Homo sapiens: one gene and its partners. The protein of the gene in region 1 interacts with the protein of each later gene in a pairwise test. Each region holds a gene or a part of one and is shown in the gene's direction. Other genes may lie near its edges.

Region 1 (3,749 bases):
CCTCTCTGTCTATAATAACTCCTCCTCCTGTTTTCTCTATCACAACACACAGTTTTTTTGTTTTTAATTTTTAGCGCATGAGGGCAGGGCCTATGTTTGTCTTGTTCATGGTTAATCTCCTTACCTAGTGCCTGACACATGTAAATGTGCAATAAAATTTATCAAACAAGTAGTTTCTTTTCTTTTTTTTTTTTTTTTTTGTTCCAGAAGACAGGGTCTCACTCTGTCACCCAGGGTGGAATGCAGTGGTGTGATCGTGGCTCACTGCAACCTCCACCTCCTGGGCTCAAGCGATTTTTCCACCTCAGCCTCCTACAGGCGCGTACCTTTACTGGCCAATTTCTGTATTTTTTTTGTAGAGATGGGTTTTCACTATGTTGCCCAGGCTGGCCTCGAACTCCTGGACTCAAATGATCTGCCTGCCTTGGCCTCCCAAAGTGCTGGGATTACAGGTGTGAGCCACCACGCTTGGTTGTAAACAGGTGGTTTTTTATAAAATCTTTCCTAGGTTAGATTTTTGGGCGTTTGTTAGCCAGAGTATCAACAGATTCACAATATGTATGGATTTAGTCCAGCCTTTTTTTTTTGATGAGATTTACCATATCGCTTCAATTTACCATATATTTTGGTGTTACTAAGCAGATTACTTCTTTTGAAATTTGAGTTATGCTGCCTCTTTTTAGTAAAGAATGTCATTGTTTTTAATACTCTTTTTCTTTCTTTCCTTTCTTTCATCTTACCTGTCCAACATGACAAAGCTAAATTATGATGAAGTTGATCAAGCTGAAAATATTATTCCTCTAATATTTAGCACATGGGATTTTTGTCAGTGGGGGTGGAAGGCAGACCGTAGTTGAAAATTGCATATATGAAGCCAACATGTATTGACCTCCTGCTCACACAGAAGGTCAGCCAGCTCCAAAAATATTTTGTCCTAATGCGTAATAAAATGTTCCCCCTTTTCTTACATTATAGTAAATCAACAGACTGCAAAACTTATACCTTCTATTTGGGCTATCTATGAAAGATACATAGGGATCCCCAAATTGGTGAATATCATATCTGACAAATACAGTCTAATCATGGCATATGTGAATAAGTAGATGATGGACTGTAGTTGGCCAGTGGCTAGACAGTAGTCATTTATTAACTAGGCAACCATTTTGTGCACATCAACTCCTTATCACAGAACCTTTGGCATTACTAAAAGTGTACTGTCAAAACCATGAGTGATAAATCTGTGAACATAAAAGGGTATATTTTATAAATGATACTCTGCCCTTTATTTCCTGAGTTAACTATTTCCTACCTCTAAAATTTCCTCCTATCCTGATTTTTCTCATCAAATAGAAAAGGGATCACAAACCTTAAGATACCTGGAGATAGAAGGGCTTTATTTTTAATAGGGCATGGAGTTGAGTGACTTACGATGTTGTAAAAAGATCATCATAAACTGTGTTCCTCCTACCTTCAGTGAAAGCTCTTTAGCTCCTAGAGAGCAGCAGAGAACTTTATTTGAATAATTGAACTATATACATTTATGTTTTGTGCTTCTTTTCTCTCAGAATTGAACCAGATGAAATAATCATAGAATTGAGGTACAAAATCATAATCTTTAAGTGAAAATCAACCTTCACATTAAAATAAGAATAAAAATGGAATAGTTGTGTAGTATACATTTAGGTAAGCCTAGGATAAAAAGAGAAAGATATGCAACTACTCAAGAACAGAAAAAAAGAACCACTATAGAAAATTTGTTGATGGTTAGAAAATAACAACAAACAACACTAGGTACAGAGATTACATGATCATTTATTAGACCACTAGTCTCACATTTTTACTTCTACTGTAGTGTAGTACCTTTCTATTTCAGACTAATGCCAGTAATCTTTGTAAAATTCAAGTCTGAATTTCTTCAGTGACTTATCATCACTTAAGGATAAAATCAGACTGCTTAGCTTTTAATCATGGGATCCCTTCTTATCTGTCCAGCTTGGTTTTTTTTCACTCTGCCACTCTGCTCTCCATCTCAAACTTTATCTTATAGTAGTAACAGTATTCACCAGATATATTGCATTTCCTCAAGCTTTTTTTTAAAGTGTGGTCCCCAGAGACATCAGCATAACTTGGAAACTAGTTAGAAATACAGTTTCTTGGGCTCTACTTCAAGGCCTACTGAATCAGAAATCCTGCGGGGTAGGGCTAAGCAAGCTAAACAAGCCTTCTTGGTGATTCTGATGTACCTTATATTTGAAAACCACCACCTTAACCCTTTTCTTTTTTAACCTCAGCCATTAACTACCATACTTTCAATATCACTTTTATTTGTGCAACTCTTAATCTACATCTCAAACTCTATGTCAGTCCTATTTTTTAAGTTGTATATTGGACATCTGTCCTGGATATCCTTTCAGTAGTTCAGACTGTCTAGGCCCTGAGCAAAATTCATTATCCATCTCCTGATATCTGCTTTACATACTGTTTCCTATTTTCTCTCAGCCATGCAGCTTTAATTCTTAGATTGTACAATATTTTCTCATTATTTTTTATGTTGTCTTGCCATAGAGGAACAGGAGAAAAAAAGATTTTTTAAAAACTGTACTAACCAAAAAAGGGTGAGGATTTTTCAGGCAATAAAGTTACCATTGTTTGTAGAGCATCTGTTAAAATGTATTTTTATCTTACTTCTTCCCTCCTTCCCTCTGCCTCTTTCCTTGCTATATCCTTCTTTCTCTCTTAAGAACTTAGAGACTGTATTTTGAACCTTAACCTCAGTTGTGCAAGTTCTGTGGCAAAGCTGGACAGGTGAAAGCTTGTACCAGCATCAGATGTTGAAGCCAGGCAACATTTCAGATATCCCTGAACAGTTCTTACAGTAGGTCCTCAATAAATATTTTCTAAATGAGTAAGTTAGCAAGTAGATGAGTCTCAAAAGACTGGGCAGATCTCCAGGGTCAAAAGAGCATGGTGAGATTGTGGCTGGAGATGTAAGAAACTTAAAGGATTTAAGCAATAAGGAGTGAGAAATTTTGATAATAAATGTTTATTAAATGAATAAATGAAAAGCTTTAAAGAACAGATAGCCATTGTCACAAATGGTCAGGTATTTCCTTCTCTGAAGGAGGGATAAATTATTATTTCAGTGAAAACTTTGAAGTTTGATTTTTAGAACTCATGTTTATATGGGTACATCCCATTTTTTTTGATATACATTTAAAATAATTTCTTATGTTGATTTACGTAACAGTATTCTAATGTTTGAGCATATATCTTAGACTATAAATTTTAATTGTTATAGTTTGTTCCATTTTTGTTGAACGGGAAAAACTGATACATATCTTTAAAATTGTATATTTAAATTACCTTACATATGAGGAATTTTTATACTTGAAAGTTATTGTTATTAACTTGTTTTCATAATGTGAGATATTCTGTCATAAAGCACTTATGTTTTAAGTTGTAATTTAAAATACCTTTCTTTTTAACATGCACACAGGAAACCTCGACCTGTCTCCCAGTTGGTTGCACAGCAGGTTACTCAGCAGTTTGTGCCTCCTACACAGTCAAAGAAAGAGAAAAAAGATAAAGTAGAAAAAGAAAAAAGTGAAAAGGAAACAACTAGCAAAAAGAATAGCCATAAGAAAACCAGGTAAATGTGAAGAGTGTTTTATGACATTTTTGAAATAATAAAACCATTTAATTTTTTTAACCTTGACATACTAATATACACAAAGTGGAAGTAAAATATT
Region 2 (3,749 bases), on another chromosome or scaffold:
TCATCCAGAGAATGTATCTACTATTGTTAGAATGTATAGGAATCACTTTCTGGGGAGCATGTGAGTGATGTTGATTTGCTAGTCCTGCCCTAGTAAGTGTCCTCAGGTCTGGTGTGTGGGAAAGGAGATGGTTTGATAGCTTCCTGAGGGGAAGTTTGAGTGCAAAGGGAACATGCCTTAGTAATATCTCTGAGATGGGCAACCATGGTGGAAGAATGTCTAGAAGTTTTTAAAAGCTGGAGTAGGGGCAGTAACCGGCATGGAAATGGTTGTGCACATATGAAAGTACAGAAGGTTTTTTAAACTTGGGCAAGACACTTTATCAGTGAGATCGAACTATTTTTTCCTGAATGGCACCAGCCTGGGCAAGTGGGTTTTTTTCCTGCTGGGTATATACAGGGTGTATGCTGGGAAAAAAAATGAGCAATAACGATGGGGTTTTAAGGGCTGCCTGCCAGGCTGCCGAATTTGTTGAAAGGTTTTTCTCGGTTTTGGCATCTGTAGCCTTTCGGTGTCCCTTGCAATGGATAATGGTGGCCTTTGGTGGTGGTTTATCCACCCCCAACAGCTTATGTGTAAGTTTGCCATTTCTTATGGGGGTTCCTTTTGTAGTTAGGAAACCCTGTTCCTGCCAGATGAAGGCATGAGACTGTAGGACATGGTATGCATATTTGGAATGGGTGTAAATGTTGACCCTCTTTCCCTTTGCTAGGGTGAGGGCCCTGGTTAGGGCAACTAGCTTTGCCTGTTGAGAGGTAGCATGGGGTGTGAGAGCATTCGATTCTAGGAGTTTATCTTCAGCACTGATGGAATAGCCAGCTGCTGGACATGGCTGCCTAAAAGAGGTTCCATTAACTAACCGTGTATGTGTTCCCTGCAAAGGGGCATCTGAAATGTGTTGGAAGGGGGAGGAGAGGGAGTCTAAGAGGTCCAGACAGGAGTGAGAGAGCTTAGAGTCGGAAGTGTTTACAGGGAGAAGGGTGGCTGGGTAGAGAATTTTATGTCTCTGGAAGGTGATTAGAGGGTTACCTATGAATAAGGCATGCACCTGCTGTAAGCAGGATGGTGGGAGGGATAGAAGGGATTGGTGGTTTATGAGGTCCTGTAGATAATGGGAAGATGCAATAGTAATGTGTTGGTAGAGAGGGAGTTTCCGTGCATCTAAGGCCAGCAATGTGGCCATACCCAAGATTTTTAGTCAGAGTGACCAGCCTCGGATGACAGAGTCCAGTTGTTTTGAGAGGCGTGCAATGGCTTCTGGGGCGTTGCCATATGTTTGGCAGAGTAGTCCAAGGGCAAGGCGCTGGTCAGAATGTACATAGAAAGTAACAGGCTTGGTGAGGTTTGGCAGTCCCAGTGCCAGGGCCATTAAAAGGGCATTTTTAAGTTTTTAAGTTGGAGTTGATGGGGCAAGCTGGGTTCAGGGGTTTTAGGATGGGCCCATGTGAGGCTACGTATAGTGGCTTGGCCAGCAAGTCAAAGTTAGGAATTCACAGCCAGAAGTATCCCACAAGGCCCAAGAAGGAGGGGAGGTCCTTTTTTTTTATGTGGGGAAGGGGCATGTCCCAAATTGGCTCCTTTCATTGGGTTGGGATGGCTCGAGAATTAGGGGTTAGAACAAACCCAAGGTAAGTAACTTTGATTTGGGTACCTGAGATTTTGTGGGTTAGGCCCAATATACTTGATTATGAAGGAAGTTTAAAACCTGAGTGGTGTGTTGAATGGACAGGTTAAGAAAGGGGCTACAGAGAAGGAGGTCATTGACATACTGGAGGAGGGTACTAGGAGCAAGGGGAAGTTCAGCTAGGTCCTTGATGAGGGCCTGTCTGAACAGGTGGGGCCTATCCCGGAACCCCTCTAAGAGTACAGTCTAGGTGTAAGTCCATGTGTAAGTCCTGTAAGAGTACAGGACATGTGAGTATTAGGATTTGACCAAGTCAAAGCAAAAAGACTTTGGTAAGCCAGATTTAAGGGAATAGTGAAATAGTTGTCTTTTAGTTCAATACAAAGGAGTGTGTGGTAGATGGGGCAATACGGTAGAGTAGAGTATATTGGTTGAGGACCACTAGATGGATTGGTACCACGGCCTGGTTAACGACTTGGAGATCCTAGACAAAGGGGTAAGTCCCGTCTGTCTTTTGGAAAGCCAGAATAGGGGTGTTGTGGGGAGAGTTAACAGGCTTGAGAATATGAGCTTGTAAAAGTTTACAGATAATAGGTTTGAGACCCCCTAAGCAAGGCTGGATTAAGGGGATATTGAGACTGATGAAGGAAAATGGAGGGGTTTTGAAGGGTTATTTTAACTGGGATGTGATGTGTGGCTATTGTGGGTTTAGAAACATTCCAAGCTTTAGAATTAACAGAAGGTAACAGGGTGGATAATGAGGATGAGTGGGGGGAGAGGGAAGCGTTTGGGTGTCAGAGTAAAATAAAAGGGGTAGAATTGTAGGAGCCACATTGCATGGAGTTCTGGAATTTACTTAATATGTCCCATCCCAAGATAGGGGTAGGGGACTGAGGGATAACCAGGAAAGAGTGGGTGAAGGGGGCTGCTGAATAGGTTGTATAATAAAGGACCAGTCTGTGCCTAGAGGGGATTTTATTGATTCTCACAATAGAGATCGAAGAACAGAAAAAGGGTCTAGAATATTCTGGTCAAACTGAGTAACTAGTTGTCCTATTGAGTATCCAATAGGAAAGACATGGGCTTACTAGAGACTGACAGAATTACCCTGGGTTCCGAGGTGGTGATGGCAGTAGGGGCGGTGGACTCCAGGCCCCACCTGTCTTCAGGTACAGGTGGTGAAGCAGGATGAAGAGTTTCAGTGAGCACAGTCTGACTTCCAGTGTTGCTTGATACCACAGATGGGGCAAGATTTCCAGAGTGTCCTGGGATTAGGCTAGGCTTTTGCCCAGTGTCCCTGTTAGACGAACTTGTAACAGGCTCCTGGAGTTGACTGTTGCCAAGTTGAGGAATTCTGTAGGCCTTGGGAACCCTGTTGAGTGGCAGCTACCAGCATTTGGTATTTAGCCTGGTCCTTCTTTAGGTTTGGATTTTTTAGTTCTTCCTCTCTAATCTTATAGATCTTGAAGGCCACTTTGATTAAGTCTCTTTGGAAGGTTTGAGGGCCACCCTCCAGTTTTTTAAGTTTTTTTCAAATGTCTGGGTCTGACTGGGAGATAAAGTATAAATGGAGGTAGTTTTTGCCCTTATTGGTATTAGGGCTTAAGGTGGCATATTTAGTTGTGACTTTTGAAAGGCAGGAGAGGAAACGAGCAGGGACAGCTTTATTTATGCCAGCTAGAAGGCATGATATCATATGGCCTGATTTCTGTCTGTCTACTGAAGTTGCCTGATAATTCCAACTGGGGCCAGTTCTGGGGACAGCTAGGGTCCCTATTGGATTATGAGCAGCATCTTGTTGGTGGAGGGTGTTCTCATGGACCTGGGCACCCATAAAGATGTGTTCCCTGTCCTCCAGGGTGAGGGTAGAGGAGAGGATGACATATATGTCATGCCAGGTAAGGTCATAAGATTTAGGGAAGTACAAGAATTCCTTGTGGAAGGAGGTTGGATCCATTGAAAAGGAGTCAAGTCTCCTTTCAATATGGGAAAACTCAGCTAGAGAGAAGGGAACTTGAATTCAGATTATGCCTTTAGCCCTCGCAACCTCCTGCAAGGGAAGGACTTTGGAAGGCCTTTGGGCATGTGCCTGGTTCCTAGCGAAAGGGGGTTGGGTGTGAGACCT
Region 3 (3,749 bases), on another chromosome or scaffold:
AGGAGTGTCTTTTCTTTTTGTGGACTGAGGTCTCACTGTGTTGCCCAGGCTGGAGAGCTGTGGTGTGATCATAGCTCCCTGCAGCCTCTGATCTCCTGGGCTCAAGCAATTCTCCTGCCTCAGCCTCCCAAGTAGCTGGAATTACAGGCAGATGTGCGCCAACCCACTGGGCTATTTTATTTTATTTTTATTTTTTGTAGTGATGAGGTCTTGCTGTGTTGCCCAGGCGAGAGTGTCTTCTTTAGAATGGTCAATAATGTTAGAACAATGGAGTCCACCATTCAGGGGAACATTCTCGGGAACTAACTGAGCTGGGCTGGTGGTATGATCACCGGACACCCTGCTATCCTCTCTGTCCGTGCCCATGACATGTCCTTGGCACAAAGACCCCTCTGGAGCTGAGGGGCTGGCCTCTTCCTTGACTGAGAGGTGGCCCCTGTCTAAGCCTCAGTTTTGTCCTCTGCAGAATGGGGGTGCTTGCAGCCCCTACTGAAATGCAGCTGCTAGCCTCCCTCTCTGAGCTCATGTTCCCAAGAACTGGTCCCTGAGCTTGGTGCCTTGGAGTGTGTGGGGAGGGGGCGAGAGGCTGGGGGCCTGGGACGCAGAGGGTGGAGGATGGTTCTGGGTCTGCTGTCTCCACCCAAACTTTCCACTGCCAGCCTGCCTCTGCCCAGGCCTCTCAGCAGCCTGCTGGGTGGGGCAGGAGCTGGAGTGGCGAGTGGAAAAGGTCCAGGAGGGCTGCTGGGCTGCTAGGAGTGGTTTCTGCTCAGCTCCCACACCATCCCTGCCTTTCAGAAGCATCTTTCAGCCCTACCCGCCCCTCCACCAAGCCAATTCCCCAACCCTGAGTTCTCTTGCAGAGTCTTAGGCCCAAGGGGGCTGTTTCGGGCCTGGCGGGAGGGTCCCCGCCTTGCTCTGCTTTTGATCTAGGTGGTGATGGAATGCTAGGCCACCCACCACCCCAAAACCCACCTCATCCTGACCTACAAACTTGGTGGCATGATGGTAGCAGTCCTGGAAGGAGGAAGAAGAGAGACTTGAAGGAGAGAAGTGGGACAGGAATATGTGGTAGACAGAGTTAGGGGCAGAGACGGACAGAGTGAGACAGCCAGCCCCAGAGACAGAACCCACAGGAGAGGTGCGAGCAGAGGTGAGGAGAGCCAGAGGTCAGGGCAACGGGTCCTGCACGCTCCTGCCTTTGGCAAATCGCTTCCCATCCCAGCTTCAGCCTCCTCCTCTGTACAATGGGGGTGACCCATACTCCTCCCTGTTGGAATGATGGGGTCCCAATCAGTGATTTCCTGCATCTCCTGGGCAGCCGAGGGGCCTTGGAAATGACAGGCATAGTCCTAGTGGATCCCCTCCTTTCACCCCTCCTGACTGAGGACTTCCATGAACTGGGCACACTCCAGGACCCAGGGGTGCAGCGCTGAGGGGATCAGGCAGGCCCCCTGTGAACCCATGAAGCCACCCTGTCAGTCACTAGTGCTCCTATTGTGGCCGCTGTTCCATTACAGAGGCAGAAGCTTAGATTTCAGCACGGATCAGTCCAGGCAGGAGGTTCTCAGCTGGAGAGAAGGGTCTGGAGTTCCCACCCAGATTGGCCTCCCAGGACCTAATATGTCTGTGTATAAAATAAGAGAAATTACTAACAAATAAATACATGAAATGAGATAGAGGCTCTCCGTGTGCCAGGCAGCGGGAAGACAGGGGTGGAGGGGCAGTGGCACAAGGAGCCTTCTCTGCTGTGAGTTTATTACTATTAAACATTCCCTCTTATTATCAGCTCCTAGGAGAGGGGCAGTGCACCCGGGCCCTGGGTGATGGGGGGATCAGGGCCCCCAAGAAGAGGTGCCACTCCCGCTTCGCCGGGCTTGCCCCAGGGCCAGGGTCCGTGCCAGGTGTGGGTGGTGGGTGGGAAGGGGTGGGGTGAGTCATCAGGGCCAGCCCCGCCCTGCTTTTATTTAAGGTCCCCAGCAGGCCCCACCACCACGGCTGCCCAACCCGGTCCCAGCCATGTCCGTGAGTGCTCCAGGGGCCCGGGGCGGGGCCAAGCAGGGAGGGGGCTGGGGGCTCCTCTTTCAAAGGAGCAAGTGGGCAGTGAGTGTGCCACGGACTGGCCTGGGCTGTGGCCTCCGGGTAACCCCCATCCCGACTGTCCCCTCTACCTCTTTGTGGCTTCCTCTGGGGCCCTCTTTGAGGATCTTTCTGTTTGTCTTTGTTGCTCTCCCCATCTGTTTCCCTGTCTGTTTCTGGTCTCTTTCCTGCCTCTCCGCCACCCTTTCCTCTTCCACTGATTTCTGCCAGTCTCAGCCCTGGTCGGCTCCTCTGAGGGGTGACCCACCTTCTGCCTCCCTCCTTCGGTCTCACCGGCTCACAGTGGCCCCTGCACCCCACTCTTGCAGAACGTCCCCCACAAGTCCTCACTGCCCGAGGGCATCCGCCCTGGCACGGTGCTGAGAATTCGCGGCTTGGTTCCTCCCAATGCCAGCAGGTGAGGCCCCAGGCCCTAGGGGTAAAGGGTACAGGTCTCAGGATCAGCTGACTCCCAATTTTTGCAGTCCAGAAGTAGGGGCCCGAGGCCACCTGTATCCACCAGGCTAGGAGTCCGAGGCCATTTCTGACCTCAAATCTGATGTATTCGTATTTGCCCCCGTGCCTTTGTGGCTGGGGTCCCTAAGTTTCCCTAAGCATTTGAGGTCCCTGGGTAATCTCAGGGTTCCTAGATATAGTCCTATGACTTCCATGTCTGAGTCCCAGGGAACTCTGGAAATACTCCAAGTCCTGGAGACACCCTGGACCCTGGGAGTCCTTGCCAAGCCATCCTTTGACTTCCTGGCTAAGGAACTTCGGGCCTTCTGGATTCTGAGGTACCCTGGAAATACTGGGGTTCCTGGTATTATTCTTTGTCCTGTAGAAGCTGAGGGTTCCCTGAGCATCAGGAGCACCCTGGCTATCACCCAGACCTCCTGGGCAGCTCCCAGGCTCTTTGGAAATGAGGGCACCCTGCCCTAAGCGTAGTGAGTTTGGTCTGGGTAGGTTTCTGCCAAGGGCCTCATGATATTTTGGCTGCCTTGGGAATCTAAGCTCCCTGGTCATTAGTCGCCTACCTCTCCTTCTGCGGTGTGTGCCTGTCTTCAGGTCCCTGTTAATTTGGGGGTACTCTGGGAATGGGGAGTGCCAGTCCATAAGACCTTCACTTTGGTCTGGGCGGTTTATGTTTTGTTTGTTCTTTCGTTTTTTTGTAAGGTGGGGTCTCGCTATGTTGCCCAGGCTGGTCTTTAACTTCCGGGCCCAAGCGATCCTCCCTTCTCCACCTCCCAGAGTGCTGGGATTACAGGGTGAGCCACTGCACCCAGCCAACATTTCATTTACTTATTCATTCAAAGTAAATTGTAGACATCGGTATTCCTCACCCTCAACATTTCTTGGTCTGGGTGGTTTCTGAGCCCTGACGGCCACCATCCTCCTCTTCCAGGTTCCATGTAAACCTGCTGTGCGGGGAGGAGCAGGGCTCCGATGCCGCGCTGCATTTCAACCCCCGGCTGGACACGTCGGAGGTGGTCTTCAACAGCAAGGAGCAAGGCTCCTGGGGCCGCGAGGAGCGCGGGCCGGGCGTTCCTTTCCAGCGCGGGCAGCCCTTCGAGGTGCTCATCATCGCGTCAGACGACGGCTTCAAGGTGCGTCTCTGCGACAGGGGCGTGGACGCCAAGACTTAGGTCCCTGGAGCAGAGGGTTGGGCAAAGCCA

The links.
Region 2: the proteins of YAF2 (region 1) and SPANXN2 interact in binary tests that used the Homo sapiens proteins (3 or more experiments, as listed by UniProt).
Region 3: the proteins of YAF2 (region 1) and LGALS7 interact in binary tests that used the Homo sapiens proteins (3 or more experiments, as listed by UniProt).

The regions. Positions count from the first base shown.
Region 1 is NC_000012.12:42,161,513-42,165,261, reverse strand, and holds part of YAF2 (YY1-associated factor 2), read left to right. Parts: intron 1-3,496; coding exon 3,497-3,649; intron 3,650-3,749. UniProt on the Homo sapiens protein: Binds to MYC and inhibits MYC-mediated transactivation. Also binds to MYCN and enhances MYCN-dependent transcriptional activation. Increases calpain 2-mediated proteolysis of YY1 in vitro.
Region 2 is NC_000023.11:143,714,149-143,717,897, reverse strand, and holds part of SPANXN2 (sperm protein associated with the nucleus on the X chromosome N2), read left to right. Parts: intron 1-3,749.
Region 3 is NC_000019.10:38,771,760-38,775,508, reverse strand, and holds the start of LGALS7 (galectin-7), read left to right. Parts: upstream 1-1,991; 5' UTR 1,992-2,016; coding exon 2,017-2,022; intron 2,023-2,405; coding exon 2,406-2,494; intron 2,495-3,478; coding exon 3,479-3,680; intron 3,681-3,749. UniProt on the Homo sapiens protein: Could be involved in cell-cell and/or cell-matrix interactions necessary for normal growth control. Pro-apoptotic protein that functions intracellularly upstream of JNK activation and cytochrome c release.